4 linked regions of the Homo sapiens genome follow. The protein of the gene in region 3 interacts with the protein of the main gene of each other region in a pairwise test. Each region holds a gene or a part of one and is shown on either strand. Other genes may lie near its edges. The genes, in order: TRIM54, ZMYND12, SEC14L4 and PLEKHF2.

Evidence for each region.
Region 1: the proteins of SEC14L4 (region 3) and TRIM54 interact in binary tests that used the Homo sapiens proteins (3 or more experiments, as listed by UniProt).
Region 2: the proteins of SEC14L4 (region 3) and ZMYND12 interact in binary tests that used the Homo sapiens proteins (3 or more experiments, as listed by UniProt).
Region 4: the proteins of SEC14L4 (region 3) and PLEKHF2 interact in binary tests that used the Homo sapiens proteins (3 or more experiments, as listed by UniProt).

What each region holds. Positions count from the first base shown.
Region 1 is NC_000002.12:27,292,413-27,299,437, reverse strand, and holds part of TRIM54 (tripartite motif-containing protein 54), read right to left. Parts: intron 872-7,025; coding exon 699-871; intron 194-698; coding exon 22-193; intron 1-21. UniProt on the Homo sapiens protein: May bind and stabilize microtubules during myotubes formation.
Region 2 is NC_000001.11:42,432,022-42,439,046, reverse strand, and holds part of ZMYND12 (zinc finger MYND domain-containing protein 12), read left to right. Parts: intron 1-2,503; coding exon 2,504-2,626; intron 2,627-3,661; coding exon 3,662-3,773; intron 3,774-5,758; coding exon 5,759-5,904; intron 5,905-7,025. UniProt on the Homo sapiens protein: Required for sperm flagellum function and male fertility.
Region 3 is NC_000022.11:30,488,687-30,495,711, forward strand, and holds the end of SEC14L4 (SEC14-like protein 4), read right to left. Parts: intron 6,957-7,025; coding exon 6,897-6,956; intron 6,757-6,896; coding exon 6,568-6,756; intron 6,276-6,567; coding exon 6,180-6,275; intron 5,525-6,179; coding exon 5,464-5,524; intron 3,872-5,463; coding exon 3,788-3,871; intron 3,470-3,787; coding exon 3,363-3,469; intron 3,288-3,362; coding exon 3,148-3,287; intron 3,057-3,147; coding exon 2,887-3,056; intron 1,561-2,886; coding exon 1,421-1,560; 3' UTR 1,193-1,420; coding exon of another isoform or gene 1,191-1,192; 3' UTR 216-1,190; downstream 1-215. UniProt on the Homo sapiens protein: Probable hydrophobic ligand-binding protein; may play a role in the transport of hydrophobic ligands like tocopherol, squalene and phospholipids.
Region 4 is NC_000008.11:95,129,467-95,136,784, reverse strand, and holds the start of PLEKHF2 (pleckstrin homology domain-containing family F member 2), read right to left. Parts: upstream 3,001-7,318; 5' UTR 2,755-3,000; intron 1-2,754. UniProt on the Homo sapiens protein: May play a role in early endosome fusion upstream of RAB5, hence regulating receptor trafficking and fluid-phase transport. Enhances cellular sensitivity to TNF-induced apoptosis.

The sequences.
Region 1 (7,025 bases), on a different chromosome or scaffold from region 3:
ACTCCCTCCCCTGTTTGATACCTTCTGGCGTTTGTAAATGGTGGGCAGTGGGGCCACCTCACAGTCCTTGTGGGCACCGAAGACCTTGCAGAGAGAGCAGGTGGGCACCTCACAGCTCAGGCAGTAAATATTGATCTTCTCTTCTTCATGCTCCTCGCACATGAGGTGCTGCTCAGCCTTGGAGTGCAGCGGCCTAGAGAGGAGTGGGCAGGGGGAGGTGGACCTTAAGCATGAAGGGTCCTAGGAATACCTTCTCTTCAGCCTCCACCAACTGCCACCACCTTCTCCGCCCCTGCAGCTAGTGCTGTGGCTGAACTGGTGAGTACTTCCACAGAGCTCTGAATTTGGGGAACAGAAGGAGCTAAGAGATAGAGGAGGCCTGGATCCGAGAACAGTCTGTATTACAAGGGGGCAGGGAAGTCCCACAGGACAGGAAGTCTTGGAGGGTTAGCGAGGATCTTGCTGGTGGACTGCCAGCCTCTCCCAGGAGGAGAGGGTAGGAGTGAAGTACTGGCTAGGGAATCAGAGACTGCCCTCTCTGGGAGGCCTGAGGCAAGTCCCTCTCCGGATCCAGTCCTATGGTCTCTAGACAGAACAGGCAGGTTGACCGTTTCAATCTCTCCCTTTTGGCTCTGATGGGTTCCTTGGCTGTGTCCCAAGCCCTGTCATGAGAGAGGCAAGAGACTCTGGTGGCTCACCTGGATGACTCCTGCTTGTAAATGTCGATAATGTTCTCCACTAGCAGGTTTCGCTGCAGGCCGTAGACACCGTGTCTGTCCAGGACAACCTCATGCCTGCACGATGGGCAGCGGAAACGGCCTCCTGAAGACACAGTGGTGGAGCCCCGGGACTGCCATAGAGGATTCGAGGCCTGCAGGGACAGATGGCTTGAGAGAACAGGCACGGGGAGGCATGAAGGGACTCGGAGGAGGCAGGGGGAAAGGGCTTGGGGGCTAGGGAGTAGGAACTTGATGGAGGGGAAGATGTCAGCTCTTCTCTGTGGCTGGATCCACCTCTGAGAGCAGCGCACGGTGGACGGCCATGGAGACCCTGCTTCCCACCTTTGCCTCATTATTCAGCCCACCTCCTAGAGTGCCCCTGCATCCAGAACTCAGCTTTGGTCAAGGCATAGTCAGGATGGGATCTCTCCAAAGGGGTCCAGCTTGGAGCCATGGGGAGACATTGGTCTTGGCAATAAGGCTGAGGCAGGAAATGAACTCTGAGTGGTGCGACCAATGTCTTCCAGTCTGGGGCCCTCTTGGGCCACAACTGGAGGAGATTCTCTGCAGTCCTGGGCAGGGGTACAAGCAGATACAAGTGCTCAACAATGGGGTTCACAAACTGTAACTAGCCAGGTAATTCTAGAAAATTGCTCCAGGAACTGGAAGTCAGGAGTCCTGGGTTCTTGTGCTATCTCTGATGCCCTCCCCCCGGCCTTTTTTTTTTTTTTTTTTTTTGAGACAGGTTCTTTCTCTGATGCCCAGGCTGGAGTGCAGTAGTGGGATCACAGCTCACCGCAGCCTCGACCTCCTGGGCTCAAGCAATCCTCCCATCTCAGTCTTCTGAGTAGCTGGGACTAGAGGTGTGTGCCACCATGCCCAGATAATTTTTTTTATTTTTAGTAGAGATGAAGTATCACTATGTTGCCCAGGCTGGTCTTAAACTCCTGACCTCAAGTGACCCTCCCACCTCGGCCTCCCAAATTGCTGGGATTATAGGCGTAAGCCACCATGCCCAACCTCTTAAGTATATAAATTTAGGCAGGTATTCAACCTCTGTAAAGCTGAGGATAAAATTATTCATTTATAGTGTGCCAGGTAGTTGCTGGACTCTGAGTTAAAGATACAAAGAAAATGCATCCTGTCCTAAGGACAAGCACCTGACAACTGCATCCAGCAGGATGGGTGTTGTGATAGGGGTAGGCTCAGAAGGAGGACTTAACAGACACCCATCACTTCCTCCGGCTTACATCTCTTGCCTAGAGTAGTTGCTCCATCCTATCCTAGAAGGGAGATCCCTGCCACAGATGATTGATTCAGAGCTAAGGAGGTGATCACCTGACCCAAGCAGAACCAATCAAATATTCTCTCCTAAGAATTTGGACTTGAGACTCAGGGGCTTAGCTGGCTACGCCATGTTCTGCTTAGGAATTGAATAGACCTGTGGAATTGGGCTAAGAGCTGACATCACGGCCACCCTGGAAAGTGTAAGGGGTCAGAAACTGAACAGAGAAGGCTGGTCTACAGAGAAAAGAGTCTATGTGTGGGGAGATGCAGAGATGAAAGACTGGCAGACACTGCTTATTGTACCCTGACGTTCACCACCTTTTCTTCTTTAATAATAAGTGCCCTGAGTTTTAACAAGACACATGGTATAAAGGGCTGGGTGTGGTGGCTCATGCCTGTAATCCCAGCACTTTGGGAGGCCGAGGTGGGCAGATCACTTGAGCTCAGGAGTTTGAGACCAGCCTGGGCAACATAGCAAGAACTCATCTCTACTAAAAATAAAAAAATTAGCTGGGCACGGTGGTGCACACCTGTAGTCCCAGCCACTTGGGAGGCTGAGGCAGGAGAATTGCTTGAAACCAGGAGACAGAGGCTGCAGTGAGCTGAGATAGTACCACTGCACTCCAGCCTGGGCAACAGAGGGAAACTCCATCTCAAAAAAACAAACCAAAAAACCCATGAATCTAAGCCTCCCTTCCAGCTGGGTGTGGCCAATTGGCTGTGCTCTGGGATGTAGATGCAAATGTTTTGTGTAATTTGTAGGAAATTGCACAAACCGTCTTTCATGGGAGGGGCATGCCCTGCTCCTCCCCTTTTCTCCTGCCTGCTGGCTGGAAAGAAGACGGGATGGCTCAAGTTGAAGCAGCCGTCTTGAGCCATGAAGTGGCAGCCACATGTTGAGAATGGTAACGAGATGAAAGGAGGTCTCTGATGAGGCAGTCCTGCACTGTCCACCCATACTTTCACTTGAGAATAAAGCAAATTTTTACCCTCTTTAAGCCACTGTTATTCTGGGGTTTCTGCCACTTAGAACAGAACCTAATCCCAACTGGCTGGAAGATTATGCATTCCTAGAGAGTAATGGAGACAGTGGTCACCTATGAGCTAGCATAGTGAGATGCACTTCCTACAACTGGGATGCATGAACTTCTCCAAACCCTTACACCATACACAAACCAGAAGACAGTTTGGAAGGCCCCTTGCGTGTGTGCAGCAACACCCCATCATGCACAGAGTGCAGCCAAGTCAAGGGTCTTGTTTGATCCTTTGGTAGCAAGGGCTGTAGGCAAGGCAGGAAACGTGGACCCACTGTGAAGTGAGCAGCTTATCTTGGGGAGAGTAACTGGTGTGTGCCATAAATATCACATCTTTCTTGGGATTTCTTGAGAATCATGTTAACCTTTAAGCCCATCATAAACCTGGGGCAGATTAGTTTGAGATAATTCAAGGCATGTTTGTACATCTGCCTTCTCAGTAGCTAGAAATGTATGAATATTGTTGAGTTTAGTTTAGGGAATGCGTTAAAGTGTATAATCACTTGCCTTTTGTTTGCTTAATACAATTACTTTTCAATATTTAGAACCCAAGTGAGGAAAGAGGTGTTGGGAGAACTCTAAGGCTGCAGTCTCCTGTCTTTCTTATCTTTGATTTGCTGATGGCAAGCATATAGAGATATTTGAATGGGAGGAAGGGGGACCTATATCCCACAGCAAAGATAAACTCTTGGGCAGCCGCTCTCCCCAACCTCCATCCCTCACTGCACCCTTCCTCTTCCTGAGCCACAAAGGCAGGGATACTCATTACTTAACATTCAACAAATGTTTTGAGACCAGGCGCGCTGGCTCATGCCCGTAATCCCAGCACTTTGGGAGGCCGAGGTGGGTGGATCATGAGGTCAAGAGTTCGAGACCAGCCTGGCCAACACGGTGAAATCCCGTCTCTACTAAAAATACAAAAATTAGCTGGGTGCGGTGGCAGGCGCCTGTTATCCCAGATACTTTGGGAGGCTGAGGCAAGAGAATTGCTTGAACCCGGGAGGTGGAGGCTGCAGTGAGCCAAGATCATACCATTGCACTCCAGCCTGGGAGACAAGAGTGAAACTCCGTCTCAAAAAAAATATGTTTTGAGGGCTTATCATGTGTCAAGCATCGTGTCATGGGTTTTCCAGACATTGTTGTATTTATTCCTCAAGAACTTCTTGTAAAGATGGTTGAGGATCCCAGCTACTCGGGAGGCTGAGGCACAAGAATCACTCAAACCCTGGAGTCGAACCCAGGAGGCCGAGGTTGCAATGAGCCGAGATTGCGCCATTGCACTCCAACCTGGGCGACAGAGCAGGACTCTGTCTCAAAAAACAAACAAACAAAAAAAGATGGTCGAGGAGGTGAACAATCACTCCTAACTTAGTCTACAAGAAATAGAATAATAATGGCTAACATCTACTGAGCCAGGATTTGCTCTAAGTCTTTCATTTGTATTAATTCACTTAATCCTCATATCAACCCTGAAGTAGGTAATACTCTTTTTTTTTTTTTTTTTTTTTGAGATGGAGTCTTGCTCTGTCGCCCAGGCCGGAGTGCAGTGGTGCAATCTCAGCTCACTGCAACCTCCATCTCCTGGGTTCAAGCGATTCCCCTGCCTCAGCCTCCCAAGCAGCTGGGACTACAGGCGCCTGCCACTATGTCCGGCTAATTTTTTTGTATTTTAGTAGAGACAGGGTTTCACCATGTTGGCCAGATGGTCTCAATCTCCTGACCTCATGATCCGCCCACCTCAGCCTCCCAAAGTGCTGGGATTACAGGCGTGAGCCACCATGCCTGGCCCTGAAGTAGGTAATAGTCTTAGCCCCATTTCAAGGATGAGGAAATTGTGTCTCAGTGAAATTAAATAAATTGTACACGGTCATGAGCTAATAGGTGGCAAAGCCAGTACTGGAACTTAGGCACTCTGACTCCAGAGCCTGTCCTAATAATCATTGTGTTCCATTGTCAGACACAATAAAACTTAGGCCAGGCTGTGCACGGTGGCTCATGACTGTAATCCCAACACTTTGGGAGGTCAAGGCAGCAGGATGGCTTGAGTGCAGGAGTTCAAGACCAGCCTGGGCAGTACAGTGAAACCACGTCTCTACAAAAAGAAGAAAAAGCAAGATGGCTCATGCCTTTAGTCCCAGGTATTTGGGAGGCTGAGGTGGGAGGATCACTTGAGCCCAGGAAGTCAAGGCTGCAGTGAGCTGTGATCATGCCACTGCACTACAGCATGGGTGACAGAGGGAGACCTGTCTCAAAAACAAAACAAACAAAAAACAAAACAAAAAAACCCTTAGAGCTAATATTCATTTCTCTGAGTCTCAGGCAGAGGCAGTTTCTTTTACTGTTGTTGTTGTTGTTATTATTGTTGTTGTTGTTTTTGAGACAGAGTCTCACTCTGTCGTCGGGCTGGAGTGCAGTGGCAGGATCTTGGCTCACTGCCACCTCCACCTCCCGGGTTCAAGCGATTCTCCTGCCTCAGCCTCCTGAGTAGCTGGGAGTACAGGCACGTGCCACCATGCCCGGCTAATTTTTTGCATTTTTAGTAGAGATGGGGTTTCCCCATGTTGGCCAGGCTGGTCTTGAACTCCTGACCTCAGGTGATCCACCCACCTCGGCCTCCCAAAGTGCTGGGATTACAGGTGTGAGCCACCTCACCTGGCCGTTTTTTGTTTTTGTTTTTTAAGTAAAAAAAGTAAAAGGGTAATGAAGGAACAAACCTCAAACCTTCACAGAGGAAAGAAACTACAGCCTGAAAATCAACTATGCAACTGTGGACTAAAGCTATTTAAGCAAAGATCAACAAAAGATGACTCATCAAATTAAAACCCTGTGTGCCATGGAGCTCTATAAGGGCCCTGCTTTCAACCAGAATGACCTGTTTGTCTGTGAAATGGAGAGGAAATAGCTCAAATCTCAGGGGAGACCTCCTCCCATGGACCTGTGTGGGCCTCTATGGTAGATAAATCACCGGATTCTGCGTGAAAAATACTCCAAGACAACACAACCAAATTGAGACACTCAACTACCTATTAATTCAGGTCATACCCCTCTATTCACCAAAGAAGGCACAGAACTAAAGAGAGATTGCAAAACCAATGACAACATCCAACCAGGCAGCTTATATTTAAGAGGACAGTGAAAGAAAGCCAAGATAAACACAGTGGGTTGAGTCAGGAATTCACCTTCAGCTCCAGATAAAAGTACCCTGATAAAAGGGGAGTGATAAGCAGACAGAATCCAACAAAAGATGCAAACCAGATAATACAAAAAGAAAAGAAAAAAGAAAGCTTGACAAACAAGGGACAGATACTCCAAGAATCAATACCATTTCGATATACCATTTTAAAAGAAATAACAAAAACAAAGAGATATAAGTGATCAAAACTGGAGAAGAAAAGAGAGCTGGCAGAATTAAGGAAAGAAATCAAGTAAATATCAACACAGAAAAAAAATCCACATTTGACAGGAGAATGGATGATGCTGATAAAAGTCACATAGATTGCAATAGAAATTATCAGCTAAAAGTAACCAGGTCTGCAGTCTGTAACATGGATAAACCTTGAAGACATTATGCTAAGCAAAATAAGCCAGACACAAAAGGACAAATATTGTATGATTCCTCTTAAATGAGGTACCTGGCATAGGATGGATGGTGGTTGCCAGTTGCTGGAAGGAGGGGGAGTAGGGAGGTATTGTTTAAGGGGTGTGGGGTTTCAGTTTGGGGTGGTGATAAAGTTCTGGGGATGGATAGTGGTGACAGTTTCACAACAATGTAAATGTATGTAATGCCATTGAACTGTACATTTAAAAGGTTAAGGTGGTACATTTCATGTTATGTGCATTTTACAAAAATTAAAAAAAATTTTTTGAGACAAGATCTCTCTCTCTGTCGTCTCAACTTCCTGGGATCGAGGGATCCTCTCACCTCAGCCTCCCAAGTGGCTGGGACTGCAGGTGTGCCACCATGCCCAGCTAATTTTTAAAAAAA
Region 2 (7,025 bases), on a different chromosome or scaffold from region 3:
TTAAATTTAAAAGAGCTAGATGTATAAGAAAGCACTTATCGATGATAAAACTCTGTACAAAGTTAGATGGGATGTTGAGGATGATAACTGAATTGTTCTTTCAAAATTTAAGGGGTTTCTATTAGGATTTCAGTACTGGAAAATATTACCAGAGAAAAGAGTTCCTGGGCGTGAAATCTGAGTTAGCGTAGAGTCAGACTGCAGTCTCCATGCAGGTTGGTTCTCTCTTCAGCCTCTCTTCTGGCCTCTGCACCAAGCAGCCCTTCCTCTGGTTGCCCGCCTGTACAATGCCCGTAAATTAAATTTTACGCTGGTTATTCTTTAAATTCCACTAACCCATATCCATTCTCTGCCCTACTCTATGCCCTGGGAGCCTGACCTCTATGGACTACACAACCTCTATGGACTCCATTGCTCTCTGGCCTTGGTTGGGTTTGGAGAGTGGAAGGCATAGTAGGGGAGTGGAGAGTAGGAGGAGAAAAAGGCTGGGGTACTGATTCTCTCTGCTGCCTCTCTGCCCCACCCCTGATCTGTCAGGAACAGTGTTCCTCTGTGGCCACAGCTCCTGTCAGGCAGCCTTCTTCCATAGTGCTAGCTCTTGCTGGGCCCTGGTAACCTTGTTTCCTCCCCTTGCTGTTTCAGGTGTAGGGATGGTAATAGTTTCTTGCTGTTGGTAGTCCCTGGTGTTTCACTAGGCTTTGTTGGTTTTACTCGTAGGGCTTTTCCCTAGCCCTTGTTGGTTTCTTAACCCTTCTACATGTCAAGTAATAATTCCACTAAACTATCTTCAGGCAATCTTATTGAGGGTGCCATCTAGTTCCACCTGGGCTCCTGACTAATACAATTCTTTGTGTTTCCTCTCTATACTCTACATCCTCCAACAAATTAAGCAGAGGCACATTCTGTCCTGAGCTGGGCCACACAGTTAAGAATTAGTAGGCCAGGTGTGGTGGCTCACGCCTGTAATCCCAGCACTTTGGGAGGCTGAGGCAGGCAGATCATGAGGTCAGGAGTTCGAGACCAGCCTGACCAATATGGTGAAACCCCGTCTCTATGAAAAATACAAAAATTAGCTGGGCGCAGTGGCTCACGCCTGTAATCCCAGCACTCTGGGAGGCCGAGATGGGCGGATCACCAGAGGTCAGGAGTTCTAGATCAGCCTGACTAACATGGTGAAACCCCGTCTAAATATACAAAATTAGCTGGGTGTGGTGGCATGTGCCTGTAATTCCAGCTACTTGGGAGGCTGAGGCAGGAGAATTGCTTGAACCTGGGAGGCAGAGGTTGCAGTGAGCCAGGATTGCGCCACTGCACTCCAGCCTGGGCGACAGAGTGAGACTCAGTCTCCAAAAAAAAAAATATGAAAATTAGCCAGGTGTGGTGGTGTGTGCCTGTCATGCCAGCCGCTCGGAAGGCTGAGGCAAAAGAATCACTTGAACCCGGGAGGCGAGGTTGCAGTGAGCCAAGATCGCACCACTGCACTCCAGCCTGGGCGACAGAGGGAGACTCTGTCTTTAAAAAAAAAAAAAATTAGCACAAGCTCAGATTCCTTAGCCTAGCTTTTTAAACACACACACACACACACACACACACACACACACACACAGAGCTTTATTGATATATACCATAAAATTCACCCATTTTACGTGTACAATTAAATTATTTTTAGCAAATTTACAGAGTAGCGCAACCATTAGCACAATCAAGTTTCAGAACATTTCCATTACCCCAAAGAGATCCCTTGTATCCATGCGCAGTCATTTCCCATTCCTGTTCCAGCCCCAGCAACCACTTCCTGTTTCTACAAATTTGCCTTCTCAGGACAGTTCATACAGACAGCATCATGTGTGGTCCTTTGCATCTGACCTCTTTCACCTAGGGTGATTATTTTGAGATTCATCCATGTTGTTGCATGTATCAACAGTTCATTCCTCTTATTGCTGATTAGCATTCCATTGCCTGGATATACTACAATTTGTCTATCCATTTATCAGTTGATGGACATTTTGGTTGTTTCTATGTTTTGTGTATTTTAAATAATGCTGATATAAACATTTACGTACAAGTCTTTGTGGGTAGGTACTTAGAAGAGGAATTTCTGGGTCATGTAGTAACTCTATGTTTAACTTTTTAAGGAACTACCAAACTGTTTCCACAGAGGCTGCACCCTTTTACATTCCCATTGGCAATGTGTGAGGGTTTCATTTTCTCCATATCCTTCCCAACACTTTTTATTTTCTGTATTTGATTCTAGCCATCCTAGATGCAGTGATATTTCATTATAGCTTTGTTTTGCATTTACCTAATTACTATGTTAGTATCTATACATGTGCTTATTATTCATCTGAATATCTTTTTGGAGAAATGTCAATTCAGATCTTTTGCCCATTTTTAAATTGGAATGTTGTAACAGTTTTTTGTATGTATTCTAGATACAAGTCCTTTATCAGATATATGATTTGCAAAAGGAACTCAAGCACTCTCCTTCTTCCTTCTGCTATAGATTTATTTTGCCAGTTGTGCATTTGGAACAGAGGACATTAGGACTTCAGGAGGCTACTTCCACCTGGCTAATATATTCTATGACCTTAAAAAGTTGGACCTGGCAGACACATTGTACACCAAGGTGAGCTGGGGAATGTGGGAGCTGAGCCTTCACTCTTAGGCTTGGTGTCTTACAACTTGTATTAGACTATTCATGAAAAACATACCATTCATGAGAAAGAGAGGCACAGAGAGATGAAGTGGCTTGCCCAAGACTATATAGCCTGATACATGATATACTCCATTTTCTTTCTTCCAGTGTCTCCACTACCAAAATAGACTAACCCTTAACATCCGTAGGGTGATTAACGAATAATGAAGGACAGGTCAGTAAGAGCCAAACCCCTTCAGATAGACTGTTGTATGCTGTGTCATACCCATAGCAGCAAGCTAATGTGGGCTTATTGAAGTGTGCGATAGAGAAGGAGATTTCCAAGGGAAGTCTGTTGCTACAAGATCCTGTCAAGGGATCCAAGAACATGAGAAATTTCCATATTTACATGTAAAATATTTTAAACTGTTTCCAATATATTAAAATGTCAGCTGTATCCATATAGTAACACCTCACTTAGCAGGCAATCATTTGTGTAATAAATGTGTAATACAGGCTTTCTGCTGATTGTTGATTCATGTTTTAGACCTGCTTCTGAGAAAGAGGCATTTTGCTGTAGTTTAAAAGCTTTAGAATCAGATAGACCAGGGTTTAAATTCTGGCTATGCCACTTAACAGCTCTTACCAGAAGTCGTGTGTGATCTTCTCTGAGCCTCGGTTTATTTACATGTAAAATGGGAATAATAAGAATATTACATCAGGATGTTGTGAGGATGTGAAGGTTTCGTGTTGTGTGTGCTATACAAAAGATAACCACTGTTATTAGACCCCACTAGGGCTACCCCAAGATGAGCTGCCACAGGCCCTTTTCAGCCCATCACTTGTCACACTTACCTTGGCCAGGCCTGTTTGGGCTCCTAGGGTTCCCTCTGCCTCCAGGCACAGTAAGAGAGAGAACCTCCAGGTTGTCCAGAAGCCCGGCCAAATGCGCTACTCTCCTCACCTGCCTGGTCCGACGGCTGAGGTCTGGCCTGCTTGTTGTATTACCATCTCTTTTCCCAACAGGTCTCTGAGATCTGGCATGCATATTTGAACAATCACTATCAAGTCCTCTCACAGGCTCACATCCAACAAATGGATTTACTGGGCAAACTATTTGAGAATGACACTGGCTTGGGTAAGTGGCAGTTTTCCCTGAAGGGAGAGCAGTGACTTCATCTCACCCAATACACAGACCTTGTCCCTAAGAGGGAAAGCAGCTGTCCCTGTCATGAAGCACACCATTGCCACCTTCCCCATGTTGCTGATGGAGAAAACTGAGACACGGGGATCAAAGAGATTTTACCAGTGTTGGGAAGAATTCAGATCCCTATCATCACACATAGCCATTCGGGGGTTACTAAGGGACAGATTTAGAGGGAAAAAAAGACCACATCAAAGCCCCCTGTGATTTCTGCAGAGCATCCATTTCTATGTTATCCCTCCAGGGCAGCAGTCCCAATCTCTCCCTGGCACCAGGGACCCGTTTCATGGAAGACAATTTTTCCATGGACTGGGGGGCGTGGGAGGAATGGTTTCAGGAGAATTCAAGTGCATTACATTTATTGTGTACTATGTTTTTATTATTATTAATATATTGTAATATATAATGAAATAATTATACCATGCATCATAATGTAGAATCAGTGGGAGCCCTGAGCTTGTTTTCCTGCAACTAGATGGTCCCATCTGGGAGTGATGGGTGACAGTGACAGATCATCAGGCATTAGATTCTCATAAGGAGTGTACATCCTAGATCCTTTGCATGCACAGTTCACAATAGGGTTCACGCTCCTAAGAGAATCTGATGCTGCTGCTGAACTGACAGGAGGTGGAGCTCAGGTGGTAATGCAAGCAATGGGGAGTGGCTGTAAATACAGATGAAGCTTTACTCGCCCCTACCACCCCTGCTCACCACCTGCTGTGCAGCCCGATTCCTAACAGGCCACAAAACAGTTCTGGTCCATGGCCTGGGGGTTGGGGACTCTTGCTCCAGGACACGTAAGCCAAGGTAGACTCTACACAGAAGGTGCATTGCTGATTTCTTCTGGTGCCTTAACTTCATGCTTTACTGAACAGTGAGCTTCTCAGTGGCAGGGCCCAGTTGGATTAAACTGTATTCCCCGGGCCAGCAAAGGGCTAAGTGTTGAATAGTACCGTACAGCATCATGCCCTCAGAGACAATGAAAAGACACAGAGGATCTAGTTTCTGCTCAAAAGAGACATACAGTGCAGTTGGTGATATAGAACCTATAGGCAATAACAAAAGAACATTCCTGTGAGTACAAATTATGTTACAAGATGAGTCCCAGAATGAAGAGGTGAGGACAGCTGGGTGGTGTTGAAGAAGGAAGACTCTTTGGAGGAGAGGTTTTGAGCTAAAGTTTAAAAAATTAATAACTTTATTGAATTTTCTCTCATTATGTAAATAGTTCATGTTATAGCTGAAAACTTGGAAATCATAGATATCCAAAGATAGCCAACCTTAACATGATGGTGTATATCCTTTTCGTCTTTTTCTCTAAGCTTAGTACTTGTATAAGTGCTTTTAAATGCATGTAGTGACTTCTCAGTAAATGATGACTAAAGTAGGACCAAAAACTACTGGGGAAAATAGTAAACAGACTCTCAGAGGGAAGCATGAAGGTTGTTGCTTACGCATCTATGGCCTAGACGAGAAGAGTTAAGCTGCTGCAGCTGCAAGAAGTCCCTTCCCCCAGTTCTCTCCTCTCAGCTGTAGAGTGGAATCTGAGTTGGACCCAAGGAATCTGCCTGTGGCAGATTATCTGTGTTTGTAAGCCCAAGAGATCTAGAGTTCAGGACTCCGAAAGAGAGAAACCTTAGCAACTTTGGGACCTGTGGGAGTGAGCCTATTTTTAGGCTACTCTGATAATGGCATGCTAAGCAAAGCTGGAAAGCGGTCTGAAACTCCTGCTTCGGAGCTTCCTGCTTTGCACCTGGAGGGAGTCCTCTAGGTAAAAAACTTGCTGTAATTGGTGCTATTTCCACCAGTGCCCTTGGGAAGGCTTCAGCAGACCAGGCGCTTTAACAGCTGAGTGCTTTTGATGAGGGCAGACTCAGTTGCCAAGAGCCTGTTTTTTCTTTCTTCCCCTTCCAATGCAGATGAAGCCCAAGAAGCAGAAGCCATTCGCATCCTGACTTCAATCTTGAACATTCGAGAATCTACATCTGACAAAGCCCCCCAAAAAACCATCTTTGTTCTGAAGATCCTGGTCATGTTTTACTACCTGATGATGAATTCTTCAAAGGCAAGTTTCCCTAAAAAAGCAACACGTCTAAAATGAAGGTAGAAATTCAACTAGTTGAACTCAAAATTTGTGTTTTGCCCAATTCCAATAGCTTTTGCCCTCAGAGCAAGCCCTCACTCCAAAGAGGTTCAGATGCTCACGATGTTTCTCCTGTGTTGAGTCTAGCCTGCATAATGGAAATTGGATTGTCTTCTTCCCCCGAGGGTTCCCAGTCTTGCATAGATAAAGAGAGTCTGAGGCAGTGCTGGGAAGCCTGCAGGGCAGGAAGGCTCTGGGGAGCCTTGGATGGATGAAGTAGCCGCTCTAACTCCACTCAGTTACTGAGTTCCCTGTTGCTGCGGGGATTCAGGCAGAAATGCATTGCCATGAAATGATTCAAAAAGTAACTTTTTGAGTACTTTTACCTACCAGTTATTGGCCTAAACCCTTTACATAATTATCATACTTAATGCTTACACCAACATTAATGAGGTAGCTATTTTATTATCTCTACTTTACAAACAAGGAAACTGAGGCACCGAGAGGGTCAATTCTTTGCCCAATGTCTTACAGACAGCAAGTAGCATATCTCAGGTTTATTGACTTATTGGTTGATTCTCTCATTCATTCAAACATTTATTGAAAATCTACCATTTGTAAAGCACTAATCTAGGGACTGGGGATACAGTGGTGATCCATACGTTTCCTATCTCTATGGCACTGGTGTTTTTTGGAGGAGTGGAAATAAACATATGTATGTGTAATATAATTTCAGATAGTAGAAACTGTTATAAAGAAAACTAGCCAGGCACAGTGTCTCATGACTGTATTCCCAGTACTTTGGGAGGCTGAGGAGGGATGATTGCTTATGTCCCGGAGTTCAAGACCAGCCTGGGCAACATAATGAGACCCACTCTCTACTAAAAATAAAAATAAAAAGATCAGCCGGGCTAGAGGTGTGCACATGTAGTCCCAGCCACTCGGGAGGCTGAGATAAGAGGATTACTTGAGCCCAGGAGATTGAGGCTGCAGTGAGCCGTGCTTGTGCCTCTGCACTCTAGCCTGGGTGACAGAGCAAGATCCTGTCTCAAAAAAAAAAAAAAGAAAAAGAAAAAGAAAAGAAGAAGAAGAAGAAGAAAAAG
Region 3 (7,025 bases):
AGCCTGCCATGGAAGCCCAAGTGCCTCTGGGCACTCCAAATATCACTGCATCTGGGAAAGCAGCAGACAGCGTGGCCATGCAGTGCAACAGGGTAGTGGGGATGCCTGTCACATCTCCGATGCAGAGGCAGCCCCTGGACATGGGGATGTCCTGTGACTCTTGCCCGACAGCCCAGGCCATCTCCTTGGAGCCAGCGCAGCCATTTTTTTTTTTTTTTTTTTTTTTGCCAATCTGCTCAAACACCCAGTTGGAACAGGAATGCCTCGTGGCACTGGCTTTAGGAGTTTAATCTAGATGGTTTGCTGTTTCTAGCAGCAGAGCACCTGTTCAGACTCTACGTATATGCACCCATGAATGGTGCAGCTGCCAAGAGAACCAAAGCTAAATGTTGGCAGGATCACAGCAGGTGTGGAGGGGAGGTCACTGGGAATTCCCTGGAGACTCAGTCGTTACCCACTCAACTGGAAGGCTGAGCATGGCTTTTTCCTCTGATGGTTACCCATGCCAGGCCCCACCTCTCCATGTCCAATGTTCTTTCTTTATTTGTTTGTTTGTTTGTTTGTTTGTTTAGAGACGGAGTCTGGCTCTGTTGCCCAGGCTGGAGTGCAGTGGCACGATCTCAGCTCACTACAACCTCCGCCTCCTGGGTACAAGCGATTCTCCTGCCTCAGCCTCCTGAGTAGCTGGGATTACAGGTGCACGCCACCATGCCCGGCTAATTTTTGTATTTTTAGTAGAGACAGGGTTTCACCATGTTGCCCAGGCTGGTCCCGAACTCCTGATCTCAGGTGATCTGCCCAACTCAGCCTCCCAAACTGCTGGGATTATAGGCGTGAGCCACCACGCCCAGTCCATTTCCAATTTTCCATCCAGTGGTGGCAGAACAAACTTGGATGGGCCCCAGTGCTCTGCTGGAACCAGGACCCTCACCCAGCTGCCTCCAGCTGGGCCTGCCCACCCCTGCTGACCTCCTACATGCAGAGAACAGGGCTTCTCTGCTCTTCAGGCCTGAAGCTGTGATGTCCACAGGACCTAGGAACCACGCACACCCCCTGAAGCTGGAACACCAGGCATGGGTGAGTCCTGGGTGGCTGGATCTTGTCAAGATGGGTGAAAGGGCAGCTTCTGCAAGCAGGACCCATCCTCAGTGGACTGGATCATCTTCAGCGTTCTCATTCTCAGCCGCATTCTCTGGGAACAGGGAAAGAGGTTCCTGTCTGAATCTTCAGCATGGGCTATGCACTGGTGGCCCCTTCCTGCTTGGCCACTGTGCCAGGTGAGCCTACAATGAGATGAAATGGTGACGTGGGACAAGTGGCTCTCTGCAGCCACCTCCAGCACCACCCTGCCTGGGAAGGCAGGGGTCAGAGGGGTGGGTGTGAAGGGGTTGGAGTGCACAGGTAGAGGTGGCTGGGGTCTTCACTGTGTTGGGGAGGGTCTCATCGCCTTGAGACTCTGCAGCGTCTCCTCAGAGGCCTTGTCGGGAAGCAGCACCTCCACAGTGTAGCTGAGCTTCTTGGCATGCATCCGGCTGTAGGTGTTGTCGAAGCGCAGGACATCTGCAGTGATGGAGAGGTGATCAGGGAGCACAAACCCCGCACATCTGCAGGAAGAGCCAGCCCTGCATGGGTGCATCCCTGGAACCCTTGGGAATGAGCTGCATCCCTGGAACGTCCTGCATCCCTGGAACCCTTGGAAATGAGCTGTCCAGGACAGTGGGTGGGGCCTGAGGGCCAGCCTGTGCCCAGCCCTAAGCCCATTGCTCGCTGCCATCTCCATGGTGGCTTGCGCTACATGAAGGAATCATGATGGTCATCAGCATATAGAACAGCACACAGCCAGGGAGCAGGCGGCCTGGGAACGGGATCTCGAGCTCCACCTGCAGGGAGGAGCTGTGGCCCACGGACACAGTATGCTCGTACTGCGTCCTCGCCTAGTTGCGGTTGCACAGGTAGCTCTTGGGCCTCTCCATGAACCATGGATTCCATCACACATTATAGCCCCTGAATCCTCAAAGCAGCCCCATGTGGAAGGCAATGTCATCCTCATTTTACAGAGGAGAAAACTGAGGCTTGGAGAGGTGATATGATCTTTCAGCGGTCACAGAGCAAGGGAGGGGAGGTACTGGGATTCCTTTATCCAGATGTCCCAACCCAGGGAGGAGCCCTGCTACCCCAGGAGGAATGGGCTGGGCTACATAAGCCGCTTTCCGTCTCACAGAAGGCATGTCCTTCAATGCCAAGGTCCAACATGAACTCAGGTGTGATGAGTCGTGCAGACTTGTCTGTCTCTACTCTCCTAATGCTCCCTTTCCACAAAATGAAATAAGGTAATGTGTTGACTTAAGCATAAGCCACACCCTTCTCCTCCATAGGAAATCAACCTTGGGTTCCCCTTCTCCTAGCTCTGTTCCCAATAGATGTGGAAGGGCAGTGGTGTCCCTGAGCAATGCTACTTCTGGTAAAGCTGACTGAGCTGCATCTGGCCTGGAAGGCCTGGGGGTGAATGATAAGCACCTGGAGGAAGTCACCTCTTTGGGACTCCTGGAGTGGGGTGGTTCATGCAACTGGGTGGTCCCCTTGCCAAGACCCCTGACTCTAAGTCCATGGCCTCTTACTTACCTGTCTCTTAGTCCAGTGATCCCGGTATAGGGGCTTCTTAGGAGCTGAGCCCAAGGCCCTAGGTTCTGAATACCAGCTCTTCCCCCACAATGAATCTCTGCCCTCATACCTACAGGTAGGGGCCACTCATCTGATCCATGGCCCCAAAGCTGGCTCCCCTGGAGCTTACAGAGATCCCCCCACCCTCCCGAGAGCTGGAAAGAGAGGGCAAGCAGAGGGGAGACTGGCAGGGAAAACAATTCCAGTAAACCCCGCAGCTCTTACAGACGCCAGCCTGGAGGCAGGTGAGGCTCCCATCCTCAGGCACCATGTGGGCATTGTAGCGCTGGCTGGGCAGCACCTCCGTCATCTCCCTAGCACTCTGCTGCTCCCCCATCTTGGTCTTCAGGAAAACCCCAAAGCCGATGTCCCCACCATCTGAAGCAAACTGCCACCTGCAGTGGATAGAGCCCCATTGGCGACCCCCTGCCTGGGCTCCAGGCCCCTCCCAGATGTGCCCAGGTGTAGAGTGGCTGCCATCCCTACCTGAGCACACAGCCCGGGAACAGGATCTCGTTCTCCACCTGCAGGGAGGAGCCGCGGCCCACGGACCTCGTGTGCTCATACTGCAGCCTCACCTGCTCGCACAGGTAGTAGCTCTTGGGCACCTCACCCCCATAGTTGATCTGTGGGTGAAGGGGGTGTGTGGGCACTAGATCACAGCTTCTCCCCTCCTTCCCCATCCTCTGGGCACCCTGTACCTTGGTCAGGCACTTGGGGTTGCCATCGGGGTCAGTCATGGTCCCCCCAAACTCCACAGGCAGCTGGTCGGGGCTGATGAATTTTGTCAGCTCCTGCTTCCAGTTGTCTGCATGGGAGCAAGAGAGGGACTCCAAAGGGACTCAGGAGACTCAACAGAGGGCAGAGGGGGCTGAGCTTGGTGAGGGAACCTGATATGTCCTGGGCGTGCTCCCCCGGGCACCTACTCCTAAGAGTACCCAAGACCTTTATGTGGCTCCCAGCCCACGGTCTAGGACCCAAGGCATTGCCCGTGCGTGTGGAGGCTCACCAGGGTCAGGCCAGGGGTAGTGCCCGAGTAGAGGACGAGCCAGGGAGAAGCAGGGTCTTTAGCATTGACCTCTGCTTCCCAGGCAGATGGACACAACCAGGGGGCCACGTCGCTCACCTCCCAGAATCACAATCTTCCTGCGTGTCTCCTCACTCATGAACGACTTGACCAAGTTGAAGGCCACGGGGAACAGTTTTGGGGCTGAAACACATGTAAATCTCTTGAGAAGCTGGACCAGAAAGGACGTGGGGATACAGAGCCACAGCCAAGAGCAGGTGCTGGACAGGAGGTGGACAGATATGGATTCTGCCACTCTCTGCTGTGTGACCTTCAGCAAGTTACCCACCCTCTCCAAGTCTTAGTGCAGTTAACTGGAAAATGAAGGTGAAATAATGTATGTATAACACCTGGCACAGTTCCTGGCTTTCAATAAATGGTTGTCTCAGGCCAGGCGCAGTGGCTCATGCCTGAAATCCCAGCACTTTGGGAGGCTGAGGTAGGCAGATCACTTGAAGCCAGCAGTTCAAGACCAGCCTGGCCAACATGGTGAAACTCCGTCTCTACTAAAAATACAAAAATTAGCTGAGCGTAGTGGTGCATGCTTGTAATCCCGGCTACTCGGGTGGCAGCGGCACAAGAATTGCTTGAACCTGGGAGGCAGAGGTTGCAGTGAGCCAAGATCACGCCACTGCACTCCAGCCTGGGTGAGAGAGTGAGATTCCATCTCAAAAAAAAAAAAAAAAAAGAAAAGAAAAAAGAAAAAGAAAAATGGCTGTCTCCCCAACCCAGTTGTAAGGGATTGGGCACAAGCTGGCTCTAGGGTCAGCAATATTGATTCCCCAACAGTATCACTTCTTTTCCACACTCCAGGTTGTCTGGAATCTTCTTGGGTGTGACATCTACATGAGACTTCCTGTCCTGCCCTGAATTGCTCACACTCAACTGAGCACTGTCTGTGGGCCAAGCTCTGTGCTCCATCTTCTCCACACACTGTTTCATTTAACCTCATAGTTATCTTTGAGGAGGGGGCTATTGTATCCCCATCTTACATAATGGGAAAACTGAGGCTCAGTGAGGTTAAGTAGACTTGGATAAAATCATAGAGCTAGTTAGATTTGAACCAGATCCTCTGACTCTGGAACACATGACATCACCAGGGCAGCCAGGGACCATTCCCGCTCAAAGTGTGTCCATCCACTAGTGTGGTCCATGGACTATCTGTTCCCAGCCCACACTGACATAAGTAAGTAACAGTAAACATTTAGAAACTTATAACTTGACATTGCTGAAACATACCAGTGCATGATTTTGTATATTACAAAAATATCAGTCTGTGAAGGACTGAAACTAAAAAATAAAGCCAGAGGCCGGGTGCGGTGGCTCACATCTATAATCCCAGCACTGTGGGAGGCCGAAGTGGCTGGATGACTTGAGATCAGGAGTTCAAAACCAGCCTGGCCAACATAGGGAAACCCCATCTCTACTAAAAATACAAAAATTAGCCAGGCATGGTGGCGTGCACCTGTAATCCCAGCTACTAGGAAGGCTGAGGCAGGAGAATTGCTTGAACCCAGGAGGCGGAGGTTGCAGTGAGCCAATATCATGCCACTGCACTCCGGCCTGGGTGACAGAGGGAGACTCCATCTCAATAACTAACTAACCAGAAACCAACCACACAAAACCTGGTTCTTCACAAAGGATGGGTGAAGAAGCCTTTAACTCCATGGCTTACCTACTGTACCCCCAATTCCTGCTTCTCCCTCCCCAGGAGGTCATCCCGGTCATGGGCTTACCTCGAATAACAATTAAATTCTTCAGGGTCTCAGGATAATTTGCTTCCAGGATGCTAAAAAACTGTGGAGTCAAGATGAGTCTGGTTGGGGCTCTGTTCCATCACCTCCCGCCCATGGGTTTCTGTGGCCTCTGATGCTGCTGAGACAAGAGGCCCATCCCTGGCCCATCCTACCTTCCCCACAAGCATGTGCCTCTTCCTCTCTGTTATTCTTTTTTTGTTTGTTGATTTGTTCTCGAGACAGGGTCTCACTCTGTCTCCCAAGGTGGAGTATAGTGGCACAATCACAGGTCACTGCGACCTTGAATTCCTGGGTTCAAGAGATCCTCCCGCCTCAGCCACCCAAGTATCTAGGACTACAGGCACGTGCCACTGCACTGGGCTAATGTAAAAATTATTATTATTGTTGGTAGAGATGACATCTCACTGTGTTGCTCAGGCTGATCCTGAACTCCTGCTCAAGGAATCTTCCCACCTTGGCTTCCCAAAGTGCTGGGATGACAGGCGTGAGCCACCACGCCTGGCCTCTTTGTGTTAATCTTGCTCCCCTTTCTCCGTGGAGGGTGGTCTCTAGGCCAGCATCATTGGCTGGTCTGTGGAGCCCCTGCAAGGCATCCCCACCCCTCTATCTCACTGGATTCTCACATCAATTCACAGCTAGGGCTCACAGCTGGGAGCCACTGCCCACACCAGCCCCAAGCCAGCCACCCACCTTACCTGCTGGTAGACCTCCACAGCTGGCTTCCACAGGTGTTTCAGGCTCAGCCCCTCCATGTCAAACACCATCAGCGCCATCTCGATCTTCCTGCCCAGCTGCTTGGGACAGAGTCATATAGGTCAGACGACAGCTCCAGCCAGGAGATCCTGGCCAGAGAGACTTGGGCACCTCTCCCCACCTTCCTGCCATCCCACCCTCTGGCAGCCCACAGCGTTTTCCAGACAGATGGACAACACCTCACTTTTACGGGTGGGTAAGGGTGGGAGAAGCCCACATTCCACCAGAGCCCTGGGTGCTGAGGGCTGGGGAGGGGCAGGGTGCCACCCTTCTCTGGTCCTGGTGCCACCCTGTAGACAGATGAGGCCCAGCCCCACCCCCGCTGCTCACCTTCTGAGTTTGCAGCTCACACTCATGCAACAGCAGCTCACAGACTTTGATGCGCTTCCGGATCATATCCTGCTTGGAGGCTGACAGCAGGAGACCCTTGGGGTCGAGGGACCCAATGATGTTGAAGTACACAGGGCAGCCTTCGTAGTCGTAGCCACAAAGACCACCCGAGTCATACAGCTGGATGACCTGGAAGTGTGGGTAAGGTCCCGACTCAATCCAGCTCACCAGGCTGGGTCCCTACTCCATCAGGTGGCTGGACGTGGTAGGTGGGAGATGTCAGGGGTGAGGGGCCTCAGATGGCCTGGGGGATGCTGCTCGAGGCTCACCTCAGGGGGCTGCCATGTGACAATGTTGTCCAGGTCTTGTTGCTTCCGGAACTCCATGTGCTGCAGGAACACAGCAGGAGCTATAGGATTTTGCAGGAACCTGGGGACACCAGGCTAGGTCCCTCTGCC
Region 4 (7,318 bases), on a different chromosome or scaffold from region 3:
TAAGCAGGCAGCTCATGTACAAAGCTGGTTCATCAAAGATAAACAACAACAAAAAAATTTTTCATATACTTTCTATTAAGCAGGGCATTCTAAAAATTCTAAGACAATTCCGGCAAAACAATAATTGATAGAGCTATAATGAGATTTGTTCCAAGAGCTTAAATGTATAAATATGACCTTTAAATTTTTCAAGCATTAACAATATTTCCATCAAGTTCAAATACATTCAATCACACTTAAAATTATGATTATAATCCTTTTGATGATCCATGGCTTCTCTCTCATACATCAGTAATTATACTTTAATCCATTATCTACTTAGAAATTTCATAAATATTCAAGTTCTGTACCCCCAGGCGAAAATTCACTCAGGTACTAAGTTAAATTCTCAACAAAACAACAACAAAACATGTGTGTGTGTGTGTGTGTGTGTGTGTGTGTGTGTGTGTGTATATATAATAAAAACCAATCTGTGGATTTAATGGAGTTGATGGCATGTATTGGGAAAAAGACTACAAAGAAGATTTAACTATGATGCTCATGGAATTTACAATTTCAAAAGAAATTCATGAAGCATATTTACAAGGAACAAACATACGTGTACTCATCCATTCAAACCTTTCCTGAGCATCTGCTATGTTCTTGGCATGCAGGGAATGAAGAGGCAAATCAGACCCGATGTGTTGCCTGCTGTCAAGGAGATGTCATGACAGAATCTATGCGATATTTACAGTAATACCATGGGAGAAATTAATTGATTTCTGGAGAGGGCAAGGGAGTGGAATGAGAGAACAGAGCAGAAAAGGCTTCAAAGAGTATAGGCTTAAGTATTTTTAAGGAAAAAATTTCATCACAAGGATCACCTGTAAATCAGCTCGCTGGGAAATAAGTATTTATACTGAAGAACTAAATTCAAGTCAGAGCAGTGATAAGAGCAAACGAGATGGACAGATTGCTCCAGAAGACTGAGTTATGTATCCTACAAAGTTATGCTACAGGAAAAATGAAAAGGCTTCAGAGTCATAAGATCTCAGTTAAATACCAGTTTGGCTGCTACATTTGTGAAATTAGTTAATTTCATTTCTAAATAAAAAATGTTATAATGCCATTTACTTGACAATGAAGCAAAACTAAAAGAATTTTTAAGAACAACAGAAATTGGCAATACAGCCTGAGCAACATGGCAAAACCTTCTCTCCACAAAATTCAAACAAAAATTAGCCAGGTGTGGTGATGCGCTCCTGTAGTCCTAACTACTCAGGAGGCCGAGGTGGATCACCTGGGCCCCGGGAGTTTGAGGCTGCAGTGAGCGGAGATGACACCACTGCACTCCAGCCTGGGCGACAGACAGAGACCCTGTCTAGGAAAAGGAAAAGGAAGGAAGGAAAAAGAGAAAAAAGGAAAAAGAAATTGACAATCAAATATGAGCAGAAGCTGTATTTTTAGATCTAAAAAGTAAAATTCTCCAAGAATTTGGGGTTTTAGGGCTTACTGTATTTGTGTTTAAGAGCCTTTTCAGTTCATTTAACAGAATTTTAAAGCAAGATGTCTTTATTTAAAAATCATTTAGATTCATTTACTGAGGCTGAATATTTTCTTCTGAAGCTTAGTCACTATACTAGTTTTATTTAGAGGCCGATTACGTGTGCTTTCCAAATAAATAGCTTAATACCATTCATTCCCCGTGTGGTCGGGACCCAAAGAGATTATAATGAAGCCTTCGTTAATACTGAATTAACGTGAAGACCCCACGAGCTGCCAGAGTATTTAAAAAAAGTAAATGCTCAAAACGCGGTAGGCATTCACCCTTAAGAAACTAAAGGGAGGGGAAAAAAACTTCAAACTGTCAAGATCACTTCTTATTCTTAAGAGAACACATGCCTTTAAGACTCTCAAAGTTTCTGTCTAAATCTTTCTTTAATGAGTCTCTTCAGCAACGTACTACACAACACGACAAAGAAGGCATTTATCAACAACGCGTTTTGTGAGTCTATGAATTACCGAGGAGGGCTTAGGTGTCTGTAACCTTCATACCCACTTCCACCGCACACTCAAGTTATTGCTGGAATGTACGGAGAGCACACAAGGCTATTCAAGCAACACCGGCAGCGCGCTCTCGGCCTTCAATCACATTTTTAAAAAGAAAAATAAATTCGTCAAAGGATCATAAAACTTGAAAAGGCTCCAAATAAATAAACCATCGCTTCTATCAGAGCAAGTTCTGCGGGGCCATTTTCGTCTCCCAAGTGACATACAAATATGTAGTTCAGGTCATAAGGTCCCCGACACGCAGACCCTGCAAACTTTTCGGCCAGAAATTTGTCGCGACCCTGAGACGCCCCCGGCCGTGTCCAGGACCCCCGTCCTCAGGCCCCACAACTTCTCGCCCGGCCTCGGGGCTCCTTCCCGCGTCCGCCGGCCCCCGCCCCGCAGACCCGTGGACCGGACCCTACCCGGCGGCCCCCGTCCCCCCGCGGCGGCGGCGGCGTCCTACGGGCGGGCGCGGCTCGCTCCCGGGCTGGCGGGACGGCGGCGGCAACTGGCCCGCGGGCCGGCCCCGGCGCGAGGGGAGCGGCCGGGAGCGCCCCGTTTCTCACAGACCCCAACATGGCGTCGGCCGCCACCGCCCGCGACGACGACACCTCCCGGCGCTGCGACGGCTCCGGGACCGCGGGAGGAAGCGCCCGGAAAGTTTCGCGTCTCCCCTCCCGGCCCGTCAGGAGCCGGCGGACCACCCACCCGGGCTTCACCTACCCCGACGGCCGCGGGCGGCGGCGGCGGCGACAGCGAAGGCGAAGGTCCGATCCTCCTGGTCGCGGACGCAGGGCGCGGACTCTGCCCGTTCCCCGCCGGGGCCTTCCAGGGTGTGTGCTGTCCGCAGCCCCGCGCAGCCGGCGCGATCCAGACGCGGTGGGCGGGCTGGCCGCCAGCGCAGCCGCTCGCAGGTGACTCCCCCGCCCCTCCAGTCGAACCCGACAACGGCTGCCTGGGCTGGCCTCTCCCCTGCGCGCGCACGGGCGCGCCCCCGTCCACACTCCGGGCGCGAGCGCGCGGGCACGAGCACACCCACACCCCTCGCTCCCCGCCCTTTCTTGCCAGTTCCCTCGCCCCGCCCCTCGCGCCCCTCGCGACGCGCTCTAGGGGCGGGGCCTTTGGCGGAGGCCACACCCACTCAGGCCGGCCGCGGGCGGAGCTTGTCCATGTGTGAGGTCGGGACGCGCTCCCGCGACGCGTTGAGGTGCACGTGAGGCGCCTTACCTGACTTTCCTGACTCCGACCAGCCCTTAGAAAGTATTGCTCAACTGTCTACGAAGTTCTTAGGGAGACTGGAATAATAGAAGGAAGACACCTCCCCACCCACAACAGGCCTCCCCGGGGAACTGAAGAACGAGAAAGGCAGGCTTTGGATCTAAATGCCCAAAGGCATCGGTACTGGCATTTGCTGCTCCCATTTAGCACAGCAATCCTTTCCGTCACACTTTCCCTTTGCTTTACCTAAAATCCCTCCTCTTGAAACCAAGGGAACTGCGGCGACACACACATACCCTACGTGCTCCACCCAGCCCTTTCTTTTAAATGCATACTTTAGAATTCTGGTCTTCCCAAAACTTTGACGACACAAAACCCCATCAGCCTACTTCACATACCTAGAAACTGTAATTATTGCATAGTATATAAGGTTAAATGTGCCCTAATTGATCTGATAGCTAAGCGCTCTGATGGGTTCGTAGAGAGGTAACGAAGTTGCTTAGGGTAGACTAGGGATGGGGGCGAAGTAGGGAGAACAGCATACTTATTTTAAACAAAGTGTGTGTGGTGTGTAGGAGGAAATTGGGTTTTGGTAAATTTTATATTTCTTATTCATCTATTACTTCAGTAAGTTGTTTTAACCTGTGTTTGATTGCTGTTGAATTAGAGTCACTACCAGCCAAGCTGCACGTGGATGAGCACCTAGGGATGAGAGCAGACTTGGGTTCCGCCCTGCTCTTCCACCTGGGATCTTCCTCCTCCAGGCTTGTTGCCTCCTATCCTCCCCTATTTCAATAGAGTTTGTCTCTGAAACAAACAAGTCTTTTTTTAAATTAATAATTAGAACAAAATTGGCAAAGATGAACTTTTTTTAAATGGGGAAAATTGTATGATCACACACACACAATCTTTCGTGTGTTAGAGTTGTCTCTAGATGAGTACAGATGTCACCAGGACGCTTGTCCGTACCATCACTCTACCTCATTCACCTCTACGTGCACAGCAATATCTATCAGTGGGGAAAAGGCAGGACTAAATAATGCCTAAAATCCTTTTAAATTTTGAAAGTAGGAATTGCTATGTCTGACTGGTTGTCTAAGGTCAAGCCTAGAGCATTAGTTATCAAATATTTTTGGTCACTCACATTAGTAAAAATGTTTGCCCTCCTCACTTCCCATGTACTTATTTAGCTTAAGTAAAGTGCATAGATAGAAGCCAGAATGACTGTAATCAAACATTGGCTTTGTCTCTAACAACCTTGGCACATCCAAAGATAACTTTGGTTTTTTCACTTGTAAAATGGAGATAATAAAAGTATATCACAGAGTCATTATGCAGATGAAATGAATTAATATATGTAAAGCATATACCTGGCACACAGTGCTTTACAAGTGTGAAATAAAATTATTACATACATAATATACACATTTATATAGTGCTACGTAAGTGTGAAATAAAAGTTGTTACATATGTAATATACCCAGCTACTCAGGAGGCTGAGGCTGGAGGATCACTTGAGGCCAGGAGTTTGAATCCAGCCTGGGCAGCATAGCAAGACCCAGTCACACATACACACAGAATTATATGTATGATATATATAGTGTGTATTTATATACACACATACACCTATTATAATATACCTAGTATGTTAGGTACATTAAAAAACAACATACACACACAAAAAAATCAGAAATAATGATTTTAAATATATATATGTATGTTTTCTTTCTGTACTCTTCATAGTCTATGCCCTCCCTGGGCTGCGTGCACCCCAGTTTGGAGACCGTTGATTTAGATCTGTGCTAACAAATACAGTAGCCACTAACCACATGTCTTAATTAAATGTAAATTTATTTAAATTAAAAATTTAGTTTCTCAGTCACACTGACCACATTTCAAGTGCTTAATAGCCACATGACTATTGGACAGTGCACATATAAAACATTTCCATCATTGCAGAAGTTCTATTGGATAGCACTGACCAATCTGGAACAAAGCAGGGAACTCAAAAGTCACTGAAAGGAAGTAAGATTCACTCCTACCCGAACCTGTAATTGTGGTACCCTGTTCAAGTCAAGTGATAAGACAGCTCTTTGAGCCTCACATCTCAACCGTAAAATGAAGATAAAAATAGGAATTACTGGCCAGACACGTGGCTCACGCCCAGCCCCATCCTCCCACCCGCCCAATTTTTTTTTTTTTTTTTTGAGACAAGAGTCTCACTCTGTGGCCCAGACTGGAATATAGTGGCGTGATCTTGGCTCACTGCAACCTCCACCTCCCAGGTTCAAGTGATTCTTCTGCCTCAGCCTCCCAAGTAGCTGGGATTACAGGCATGTGCCATCATGCCTGGATATGTTTTGTATTTTCTTTTTAGTAGAGACGAGTTTTCACCATGTTAGCCAGGCTGGTCTCAAACTCCTGACCTCAAGTGATCCACCTGCTTCAGCCTCCCAAGGTGTTGGGATTACAGGTGTAAACCACCACACCCGGCCTATAATCCCAGCACTTTGGGAGGTCGAGACAGGAGGATTGCTTGAAGCCAGGAGTTCAAGACCAGCCTGGGGAACATAGTGAGACTGTGTCTCTACAAAACAATTTTTAAATTAGCTGGGCACTTGGAGTCCCATCTCCTCAGGAGGCTGATGTGGAAGGATTCCTTGAGCCCAGGAGGTCAAGGCTGCAGTGCAGTGCAGTGAACAATGATCCAGCCACTGCACTCCAGCCTGAATGATGGAAGGAGACCCTTTCTCTTAAAAAAAAAAAAAAAAAGAAAGAAAAAAAAAGGAACTTCCTCATAAACTGCTGAATGGAGGAAATAAGATAATGTGTAAAGTGTATGACACATTGTTAAAACATAGAGGAACTTGAAAAGATTAGTAAAACTTGAGTTTATATTTCCCCAATTTGTTTTTTTAATTTTTTACATTTGAAAATAAGAGATTGGGTCTTGCTTTGCTGCCCATGCTGGATTCAAACTCCTGGGCTCAAGGGATCCTCCCTCTCAGCCTCTTCAGTAACTGGGATTACAGGCATGCACCACCAAGACTGACTAACCCGATTCTTTAATCCTGAAAGGCAAAAAAGATCACGTTATTGTTCTTGAATCTAACGTGTATCTTGTAAAAGTGAATAGTTTGGTTAAGTTTTAATTGAAAATAGAACATTCAAGAAATGATAGGATGGCAAATACCTGGATTTTAATTACTCCTTGATTTCTTTGTCCCCTCCACTTTTAAAGGCTGGTCTTCTCCCAGTTTTGCCCATCTCAGTAAAACGGCACTGCCATCCACAAACCTGATGAGCCATCATCCTGTCATCCTTTTTCCCATGTCCTCCATCCAATCTCTTTATCTCCAAAATATTGTAGGATCTACCTTCAAAACACTTTATCTCATCTGTTCTCCTCTCCTCCTGGCCCCTCCACACAGGAGCCACACAGGATTGTGTCACTCCCTGAAGAAACATTTCCATGGCTCCCCACAGAGGCTGCCATATAGAATTGTACAGTTGTGGTAGAACAACCCTATGGGAGAGTGCATTCACATTGGAGGCACTGGAAATTTAATATTTATTATGAATATTTTCTGGCAGATTTTAGTGAAATGACTCATTCTAACAAAATTATCTTACAACAATTTTCCAACAAGATGGAAATCTAATTTGCCCAGACATGCCACATAGAATAAGAGCGTTTCTCTTTCACTTAGTACGAAATACCAGCTCATCACCTGGTTCTACAAGACCCAGCACAATCCAGCCCCTGCCATCCCCTCCAACTTAAAATGATGCTACACTCCACCAACTGCCATTCACATTGACCTTCCATCATTTCCTAAAATAAATCAAGCTCAAAAGAGCTGCTGTGGCGCTCACTGCCCTGGACACCTCTCTACCTGGATAGTCACAACTCCACAGTCTCTGCCCTTCACATAGCTGCGGCTCCTTGTCATGTTTCAGTCCTCTGAGAGGCCTTTCCTGGACACTATGTCCTCAGTTACTCTCAGTCACAGCCCTTTGCTTGTTTCCCTCACAGAACTTACAGGTCTCCCTGGAGTCTGAAACCTGC